2 separate regions of the Homo sapiens genome follow, and region 2 is linked to region 1. The links come from fine-mapping of genetic effects on gene expression. A gene starts in region 1. The other region holds a variant in brackets. All regions are shown on one strand. Distances are from middle to middle. Region 1 holds the start of FBP2 (fructose-bisphosphatase 2). Region 2 overlaps FBP1 (fructose-bisphosphatase 1).

Region 1 (5,379 bases):
GCCCTAGTTTCCTCATCTGTAAAAATAGCACTACTGGATCAAATAATTGGGTGGATTAATGTGTGCCACATACTGAGATAGAGGTGTCATCTGTCTCCATCTATCCATTCACCTCAGTGTTGAAAGTTGAAATAGATTGAATGAAAATCACAAAAAGGGTATGGGATCCTGTATTTGTTCTATTAAGAGGTAGCATATTTCTTGGTAAGTGAAGATAGACCCCCCCACACCCCCGCGAAAAGAATTAGAACATTGTCACATAGCAGTTCCTCTTCTGGGGTTGTATCTTACTGAAGCACTTGCCCCAATATAAGGATGTTTGTTGCATTACTATTTGAGGAGCCAACTTACCTAAATTATCTGAATGTCCGCAAGCTGGAATGATCCAAGCCTCTGTGTGCTGACTTGGACATCTTCCCATAATATTTGCTTTCTGGAACTAAAAACATATATAAATAACATATATATATATTTGGGATCTTAAACCTGCATATTAAGATCTACTGGTAGATGTTAGTTTTATCTGAAAGTTTCCACATAAATTGTGAGCACCAATGCCCATCTCAACCATTTGGTTGCCCTCCTCAACCAGTTTGGTTGATCCAATGCCAGCGCCCAGCTCCCACTGCAGGCATCACCACACGACCCTGATCTGGCAGACGCTGTGCACAGGGACGTCTACGGGGGTGGGAGGATGGGTTCCAGGGAAACTGTTCTTTCTTAATAAAAAGGAACTGATGTGGTTGGAGCTGCCCTTGCTCCCCTCTTTGCATCTTCAACGTGGGCCAGATGTTCAGAACTGCAGTGACATTTTGTGCCCCCAGGATGCCAAGCAAGGGGCACAATCCAGCCGACCAAGGATGACAGAGACGAGACAGAGAGGGGTCCCAGTGGAACCAAGAACAGCTGAATGAACACCAGCCACCACCTCCTAGTGCACTCCTGGTCTATGAGGAAATAAACCCCCACGTGTAAATTGCTCTAGTTGTTCTATTTCTTGCAGCTGAACACATTCTAATCGACATAACTGTCAGGGGAAAAGACCTTCAGAGAAATGTGCATGTTGTACTGTTTTGTGAAATGAGATTATGTATGATTGCACAATAGTTGTGAGCACATTGAAAGACTGGAAGGGCGGCTGGGCGTGATGGCTCACGCCTGTAATCCCAGCACTTTGGGAGGCCGAGGCGGGCGGATCACGAGGTCAGGAAATCGAGACCATCCTGGCTAACACGGTGAAACCCCGTCTCTACTAAAAATACAAAAAATTAGCCAAGCGTCGTGGCAGGCGCCTGTAGTCCCAGCTACTCGGGAGGCTGAGGCAGGAGAATAGCGTGAACCTGGAAGGCGGAGCTTGCAGTGAGCCGAGATCACGCCACTGCACTCCAGCCTGGGCGACAGAGTGAGACTCCATCTCAAAAAAAAAAAAAAAAAAAAAAAAAAAAACTGGAAGGGCAATAATAGGTAACAAAGTACTGAGCACCTACTATACTAGGTACATCTCATTGCAGCCACTCTATAAGATGGATGCTTCACGGTTATGCTCATTTAAGAGTGAGACAACTGAGGTTCCAAGGGGTTTAATAACTTTCTCAAATCATGCAACCAACAGATAGCTAGCTTGGGACTCACAGCCAGGTCTGGCTGGCCCTAGAGAAAGTGCTTCCACCACCATATGCACCCCACCAGTGCCTACTGGCTGCACAGACCGCCACCAGCCCTAGCAGCAGTGATTTCTGGAGAGTGGGATGGGAGAATGGGCTGGTGGTGAGGAGGTTTGTCTTTATCCACTTCTTTAGTGTTTCCTTTTTAACAAGCAATTTTTGTTACAAAAGTGGACATCCAGAGATATTGACAAAATAACACTGGTGCCAGGAACTGTGCTAGGAATATAATAGTTTTCTTCCGGATCTGGATCTCTACTGTGGATATCCACTGGTCATACATGCCTACTGGAAATAAAAAGCATTCTTTCCTAACTTATTCCAAACCCTGGCTAAAGGAATTCTGGGGTTGCCATTATGTTACTATGTGACCTACGTCCCAGATAAGGAACCTGCGAATCTGCCACCTCCGCCCTCGGGAGAGCCAGGCCCTGCAGTCACTATATGTGAAGAATCCTTTGGAGCCTGGAATAAGAGGGTTTTATGCATCATTTTTTAATCAACTGGATTTCTCACCTCCCACCTGTGCCTAAATGGTGGCTTCTTGGTATCTTGAAAGGGGGTGCTCAGCAGGAGAAAGCAGCTCCATGTTTCTGGGCAGCCCGTCCTATTTACAGACTGCTGCGGCTCCCTGGCAGCTGCCACAGTCCCCGAGGCCAGAGGGAGTTCCTTGAGGGCCCCAGCAGTTGTTTGAGTCATGTGTTTTGGGCCCTTTTCCTTAGAGATCCTGGCAGGGCCAGCACAGATTTCTTATCGGCTTCCACACTGCGGAGCTGCAGCCCTCAGAAGTAAGCAAGGTTTCCTGCCGGGAGAAAAGGATTTGAAGCATTCCAGCCAAAATGACGGACAGAAGCCCCTTCGAAACCGACATGCTCACCCTGACCCGCTACGTTATGGAAAAGGGGCGTCAGGCCAAAGGGACTGGGGAGCTCACCCAGCTGCTGAACTCAATGCTGACGGCCATCAAAGCCATCTCCTCGGCTGTGCGCAAGGCCGGTCTGGCCCACCTGTGAGTCCTGGGGAGCAGGCATGGGGCACAGAGCACCCCAGGCCCAGGCAGGGGTGTGGGAGCTGCAGGTGCTTTGGCAAGAAACTGGGTCCAAAGCTTATTGGCCCTGTGTGCCCTAGATGGAAGCTGCATTTCAAGTTCCTATCATGTGTGCTTTGATAAAGGGGCCTTTGACTTGTTTTGAGAAAGGAACGAAAACATGCTATGAAGAAATACACATATAATTTTTCCAGTTATTATAATGATACCAAGTGCAGTGGCTTGTTGCATTAAAATATGTATTGTGTTATCATGACTTGTACTTGCACAGAGAGAGTCTCACTGGAACAAAGAAGTAGAGGGGTGACGTGAAATATCTCTTTATGCCTCTTGCAGACATGAGTGTTTTATTGTAATAAGCTTTGCAAATATGTTAGGAGCTGGAAATTATGTACGACATAGGAAGCTTGGTAGAGCCCCTTCCTGCATCTGCTCTCTCATCATCTAAAGGAGTGTTTTGCTGGCTACGTGTTTTATTTCTTCTCTGTGACTCTTTCTTTATCTTCACCTCCACTTGGTGTGCAGGAAGCCGGGAGGTGCTAGTCCTGGGAGGGGAGCGCAGAGGTTTCTTCCACAGGGTTCTCTTTGGTGCTTTATCCGAGCATAGATGAGGCCAGGTTCACATTACACTGCTGATGGTCACAGCCCAGTGTCCAGTTTAAGTCTGTAATAAAAAGAATCCGGTGGCCAGGCACGGTGGCTCCTGTCTGTAATCCTGGCACTTTGGGAGGCCAAGGTGGGTGGATCATGAGGTCAAGAGATCAAGACCATCCTGGCCAACATGTTGAAACCCTGTCTCTACTAAAAATACAAAAATTAGTTGGGTGTGGTGGCGGGCGCCTGTAGTCCCGGCTACTCGGGAGGCTGAGGCAGGAGAATCGCTTGAACCTGGGAGATGGAGGTTGCGGTGAGTCGAGATCGTACCACTGCACTCCAGCCTGGGTGACAGGACGAGATTCCATCTCAAAACATACAAACAAACAAACAAAACCCCAGCTTTCTTTGGGCTTCCCTTGTAGTAATTCCAGGGGAGGTCCTCTCAGGAGCTGAAGGAACACATATTTTGGGGATGAAAGAGACTCAAAATGAGGAGCTAACAAAGTCCAATCATTTAAAATATTTACTCTGAGCAATTAAGTGCTTTTAACACAAAAAGTGATAGCATTAGATTACAAGATGTAATTATCATTTGATCACCACAGACTGTATTTATTTAGGGGTGGTGACCCAGTAGCAGGACCCAGGTTAACGGTGCATTATCCTTGCTTTTTTCCTGTGGGTGGATGCTTCAGCTCTGTTTTTACCTCATTTGGCAATAACAGCCACGCTCTGCATTTAATCGCCTTCCAGAATGTGAGGGCAGGCGGTGCCCTGTTCTGCTCCTGTGGGTGACAGCCCTGCTGAGTGACGGTAGACAGGGACTTTGCCTCTCCCTGTGCGGACCCTGCTATCCTCAATGCGGTTGCCTGAGTCCATCTCAGGGTGATTCATCCACATAAATTGGGCTCCCCCTCTGTGCAGGGCTCTTGGCTAGGCAGTGGCTGCCATGGTAGGGGTCTTGCTTATCTGCTGCAAAACTCTGACTTTATGGCGGTTGAGCAAGGAGACAAAGTGGCCCTAGGAACTGGATAATTGAGGTGCTTATTAATTTGGCATTTCCTACCGTGTGATAATGGGCGTGATTTACTCTTGCTAGGACCTTAGATTCCCTTTGTGAAATGGAGAGTATAGTAGCATCCCTAACTCTTAGGGTTGTTGCAGAGTTAGCGAGCGCATGTGATGACGATTTCAACTGTGCCGGCCCCGTAAGACACGCACAGTGCCTGTCACTACCGCGGTTCCAAGCCCAGACCAGATTTGCCTGTGCCTGAGCCGTCAATGACCACTGGCGGCATTTGAGGAGCCTTTCAGCCCCCCACTGCACTGTGGGAGCCACTTTCTGGGCTGGCCAAGGCTGGAGCCCACTCCCTCAGCTTTCAGGGAGGTGTGGAGGGAGAGGTGCGAGCGGGAACTGGGGCTGCGTGCGGCGCTTGCGGGCCAGCTGGAGTTCCGGGTGGGCGTGGGCTTGGCGGGCCCGCACTCCGAGCAGCCAGCCAGCCCTGCTGGCCCCCGGCAATGGGGGACTTAGCACCCGGGCCAGTGGCTGCGGAGGGTGTACTGAGTCCCCCAGCAGTGCTGGCCCACTGGCGCTGCGCTCGATTTCTCGCTGGGCCTTAGGTGCCTTCCCGCGGGGCAGGGCTCGGGACCTGCAGCCCGCCATGCCTGAGCCTCCCATCCACTCCATGGGCTCCTGTGCGGCCCGAGCCTCCCCGACGAGCGCCACCCCCCGCTCCACAGCGCTCAGTCCCATCGACCACCCAAGGGCTGAGGAATGCGCGCGCACGGCGCAGGACTGGCAGGCAGCTCCACCTGCAGCCCCGGTGCGGGATCCACTAGGTGAAGCCAGCTGGGCTCCTGAGTCTGGTGGGGACGTGGAGAGTCTTTATATCTAGCTCAGGGATTGTAAATACACCAATCAGCACCCTGTGTTTAGCTCAAGGTTTGTGAGTGCACCAATCGACACTCTGTATCTAGCTGCTCTGGTGGGGCCTTGGAGAACCTGTGTGTGGAAACTCTGTATCTAACTAATCTGATGGGGACGTGGAGAACCTTTGTATGTAGCTCAGG
Region 2 (5,379 bases), 26 kb before region 1:
AGGGTCTCGCCTCCACCCTCTGCCTGGGAGTCATAGGCAGCGTCTCACTTCTACCCTCTGCCTGTGTGGAGAAGTCCACAGGAGTCTTGGGTCTGAGTTTTCTCCTCTATGAAATGAGGCAGAGGGGCCGGTTGATGCTTTGTTTCTTTTAGGGTCTTTTTAGTTATAAAGCCATAAACCCCTTGGCTTGGCTCGCAACTCAGGCTACCCCCGACCCAGGCTTCCTTGCTTGCTGGGTCTCTCTATTGATTCGTTTAACCCGTGTGTTTGGGGGCCAACACTGGTTCTTTCTGGGCAAAACCAAAAACACCCGCAAACTTTTTATGTAAAAAGCACTGAGACACATACTGCAATAAACAGATATCTACTATATCTGTAGTATTAAAAATATTTCATGGGGGAGTATGGTTGAGGAAAAAATGTTCTAAAAAGCTCCCTAGGGGAATCATAATGAAAACAAAGTTAAGAAACACTGATTTAACCACAAAAGTGTGCAGGGCACCATGACAGGTTCGAGGTGAAGAGGCAGATGATAGTATCTCCTCCTCTCTAGGGTCTGTCCAGACCTTCCTGCCTTGTTCTCCCAAGCTGATGTCCTCCTTCCTTTCTTCTAAAAATATATATATTTTTAGACGGAATCTTGCTCTGTCGCCCAGGCTGGAGTGCAGTGGTGCGATCTCGGCTCACTGCAAGCTCCACCTCCCGGGTTCACGCCATTCTCCTGCCTCAGCATCCTGAATAGCTGGGACTACAGGCGCCCGCCACCACACCCGGCTAATTTTTTGTATTTTTTTTTTTTTTTTTTTTTTTTGAGACGGAGTCTCGCTCTGTCGCCCAGGCTGGCATGCAGTGGCACGATCTCGGCTCACTGCAAGCTCCGCCTCCTGGGTTCACGCCATTCTCCTGCCTCAGCCTCCCAAGTAGCTGGGACTACAGGCACCCACCACCACACCCGGCTACTTTTTTGTATTTTTTAATAGAGACGGGGTTTCACCATGTTAGCCAGGATGGTCTCGATCCCCTGACCTCATGATCCACCCGCCTCAGCCTCCCAAAGTGCTGGGATTACAGGCGTGAGCCACCACGCCCGGCCCTTTTTTAAAAAAATTATTATTATACTTTAAGTTCTGGGATACACATGCAGAATGCGTAGGTTTGTTACATAGGTATAAACATGCCATGGTGGTTTGCTGCACCCATCAATCTGTCATCTACATTAGGTATTTCTCCTAATGCTCTCCCTCCCCTAGTCCCCAGCTCCCTGAGAGGCCCCAGTGTGTGATGTTCCCCTCCCTGTGTCTATGTGTTCTCATTGTTCAACTCCCATTTATGAGTGAGAACATGTGGTGTTTGGTTTTCTGTTCCTGTATTAGTTTGCTGAGAATGATGGATTCCAGCTTCATCCATGTCCCTGCAAAGGACATGAACTCTTTCTTCTAAATCTTACCGAACACTCACTTTTGGTGGGTTTATGGACTCATCTACATGTTCTGGTGGTCATGGCTTATTTTTTGTGGCTTTTGTTCCCTGTAGCTATGGCATTGCTGGTTCTACCAACGTGACAGGTGATCAAGTTAAGAAGCTGGACGTCCTCTCCAACGACCTGGTTATGAACATGTTAAAGTCATCCTTTGCCACGTGTGTTCTCGTGTCAGAAGAAGATAAACACGCCATCATAGTGGAACCGGAGAAAAGGGTGGGTCTGTACTTCCACCATTGAGGGTTTTAATGTAGCCGGTCTTCTTCCCAGCTTCATAATTGACTCCACTTGTTCAGCTGAGCTGGGTTTCTGGGAGTCCCTCTAGATCCCTGCTGTGGTCTTTTCATAGCTTCCACCTCACTGCTGCCATCTCTCGAATCCTCCCTGAGCCACTGTGCAGATGAGTGTTGTGGCTCACGCCGCCTTCTCCCCAGTGGACTCCCACAAACTCATCTCCATTTCTAACTTTTTATTGCCATGTTTAAGGCTCTTCAAACCCTGGCTTCTGTTGGTCACCTCTTGTACTACATCCCTATCCACCAAATTCCTGACCTTCACACTGACCCTCCTGTTGACCTAGACTGCTTGAAACTTCCATCCCTGATGCACGCATTGGAGTCCCTATTGGTCTGTCTCTGCTTCTTTTTTTTTTTTTTTTTTTTTTTTTTTTGAGACAGTGTTTTGCTCTTGTTGCCCAGTCTGGTGTACAGTGGTGTGATCTTGGCTCACTGCAACCTCCGCCTCCTGGGTTCAAGCGATTCTCCTGCCTCAGCCTCCTGAGTAGCT[G/A]GGATTACAGGTTCCCGCCACCACACCTGGCTAATTTTTGTATTTTTAGTGGAGATGAGGTTTCACCATGTTGGCCAGGCTGGCCTTGAACTCCTGACCTCAAGTGACCCGCCCACCTTGGCCTCCCAAAGTGCTGGGATTACAGGTGTGAGCCACCACACCTGGCGTTATCTCTGCTTTTTGAGAGCAGAAAATGAATCTTATTTGTCTCTGTGTCCCAGTGTCTAGTGCAATGCCTGGCACATTGGAGGGCCTCAACAACAAATGACTGTTGAAAAAGATTGTTAAATGAAAGAGTATTCCCAGCTTTTATAAAACAACAATTGTAATTAGAAAAAAAAACTTCTGAGATTAGAAGTGCAGTTATATGGGCTTACTATCTTTCCCAGTTTGAGAGGAACTGGGAACATGAAGGAGTAGAATTAGGAAAAAACAATGAGAAGATGAAGAGGCTGCCTGTCCTCACCCTATTAAGAGGGCAGGAGCCACATCTGATGAAGTTGTTTTTCATCATTCCTAAAATAGCCGTACATGCCAGACTTGAAGTTCATGTTTTTCTCAGCTGGGCCTTTCAAGGTCTTTGGCAGCTTTAGGCGTATGGCTTAGATTTGTTGTTTAATATTCTCCATCACTCACGCCGGACTTCTCTTGTCTATCATGGGCCTTCATGATAGGCAGCTTCCTGTGTTCCAGTTTCCAGTTCCTCCTGCATTAGTGAGGGTGGTCTGTGAAGAGCAAGAGGGCAGGGAATCATGTTAATCTGCTACAGACATTTAAAAACGACATTGTAAAGTGGCTAATTTGGAGATGGAAAACTCCCAGTGATGTGCTGGTAAACTGGGTCTCAAAGCAAACAAACAAGTCTCTGATATGTCCACTTGCCTCTGTCAATGGTGTGAATACTCTCCCATCGTTGATTTTAAGCTACCAATGTGATATCACTGAAGGCAGAGTTGGGAAGAGATGTGCACCGTTAGCTCCTGAGAGCCGATACCAGCCAGCTCCTGCACACCACTGAAAATCCCACTCAAAACAGGAATCTGCGGTATTCCCACTACCACTGAAAGTTATCTACTTTGGGAATTACGCTAGAAATTTGTTTTGTTTAGTTTTGTTTTTAGAGACAGGGCCTCATTCTGTCACCCAGACTGGAGTGCACAGTCATGGCTCACTGCAGCCTCGAACTCCTGGCTCAAGTGATACCTCCTGTCTCAGCCTCCTGAGTAGCTGGGACTACAGATGTGCAGCATCATGCCCAGCTAATTGAATTTTTTTTTTTTTTTTTTTTTTTTTTTTTTTTTTTACAGAAGGAGTCTCTCTATGCTGCCCAGGCTGGTCTCAAACTCCTGGGCTCAAGCAATCCTCCTGTCTTAGCCTCCCAAAGTGCTAGGATTAGGCATGAGCCACCGTGCCCAGCCAGGATATTTTTGAAAACTCTATGCACCCCAACCTCAAGGGGCATCTGTAAGACCTCCATGAGAAGTTTCTTATAGATCTCAACCCTAGCAAAGTCTCTGCTTCACCTAAGGAATTATTTTTTTCCTTACAAATAAAGGAAAATGAGTGACTAACCTTCTTTTTCCTTTGGCTGCCAGGAAACTCAATGCAAAATTATGATTTGATTATATCAACAATATAGGAAATCATGACTTATCTGTATTCCATTACCTTCATCTGCACCTCTTAAGTGGTATTTTCTCTGTTTAATGGTCTTGTGTGTATGTGTGTGTATCTGTGCATTCTGTATGCCATCTCATGCCTTCCATGACAGTACAAATAAATAAGACCCACATTTTTTGAACTTTCTTCTAAATTCCCATTCTTAGCCCCTAATGTATACTCCTTTAGTGTATCTTGCTATAACATTTTAAGGTTGTATTTCTTTTTTCTGTGCTCAGGGTAAATATGTGGTCTGTTTTGATCCCCTTGATGGATCTTCCAACATCGATTGCCTTGTGTCCGTTGGAACCATTTTTGGCATCTATAGAAAGGTAAAACGTGATATCTTAAGCACTTGGTTTGGGGACAGAAGTTAAGATTGAGCATCCAGTCCTATTTCACTGTGGCAGAGCAGCCGGAGTGGAGATCATGAAACTGTGAGACTGAAGTAGATTTGTATCTCAAGTTCTGAGCTTTTCAGCACTAATTGCATGACGAAGACCCACTAGATTGTTGAAAGAGAATATAGGGTAAAATATGGGTGGGAAGAGAAGGATATTTCACTCTTTTTACTATGTCTTACTTTTTATGATAGAAAATGAGATTTAAAAAAGAGGCAGTAGAGGGTAAGTATAGTGATGATACGATGTGAACTCAGAGTTGAGAGTGTAAGACAACAATAGAGACTATGTCAAAACTGTCCTTTAAGTCCCCTAGTCAATGGTCTATAAGCTATGAGCCCCGGGCTGAGTCCAGCCTGTGGCCTAATGTGTACAGCCTGTGAACAAAGAATAACCATTTTTACATTTTTAAATAGTTGAAAAAAACTAAAGAACAAAGTTTCGTGATCCATTTTAAGTTTTACTCTTCACGAATGAAGCTTTAATTGGCATTTGGTCACATTCATTTTTTCACATACTGCCTTTGGCTGATTCTCTGCTGCACTGTCAAAGTTTTGTAGTTATGATAGAGACTGTATGGCCCATAAAACTGAAAAATTTACTATCTGTCTGTCTGTAGAAACAGTTTACTGAGCTTTGCTCTAAGTCGTAGAAAGCACACAGCATAGGATGAGAATCCAGCCCTGCTCGGGTCTCCTAACACCTGACTCGGGCAGTCACCCCTCCTCCAGAGCTGCTTTTTCTGAGAGAGAGAGAGAGAGAGAAAGAGAGAGAGAGAGAGGAGAGAGAGGAGAGGGAGGAGGAGGAGGAGAGGGAGGAGAGGGAGAGGGAGAGGTGCTCAATTATACGAATAAGTGAAAAATAGAATGAAAACCCATCCACCCATCAGGAAACATGATAAAATCCAAGGTACATCCTCTTAGCTTTAGCTCTTGTTTTGTTTTATTTTTTCAAAGTATATATTTTAGGCCGGATGCGGTGGCTCACGCCTGTAATCCCAGCACTTTGGGAGGCCGAGGTGGGTGGATCACAAGGTCAGGAGATTGAGACTGC

The links.
Region 2: its variant is fine-mapped to the expression of FBP2 in lung (GTEx, PIP 0.94).

What each region holds. Positions count from the first base shown.
Region 1 is chr9:94,590,851-94,596,229 of GRCh38, reverse strand. FBP2 (fructose-bisphosphatase 2) reads left to right here and starts at 2,406. Exons shown (of 7, transcript NM_003837.4): 1 at 2,406-2,673. The coding sequence starts at 2,504. RefSeq lists an enhancer at 4,397-4,939.
Region 2 is chr9:94,616,646-94,622,024 of GRCh38, reverse strand. FBP1 (fructose-bisphosphatase 1) reads left to right here. Exons shown (of 7, transcript NM_000507.4): 2 at 1,534-1,696; 3 at 4,165-4,257. Among named protein-coding and RNA genes, the nearest start is that of FBP1, 20 kb to the left of the region's middle. The variant G/A (reference allele first, on the strand shown) is at 2,267.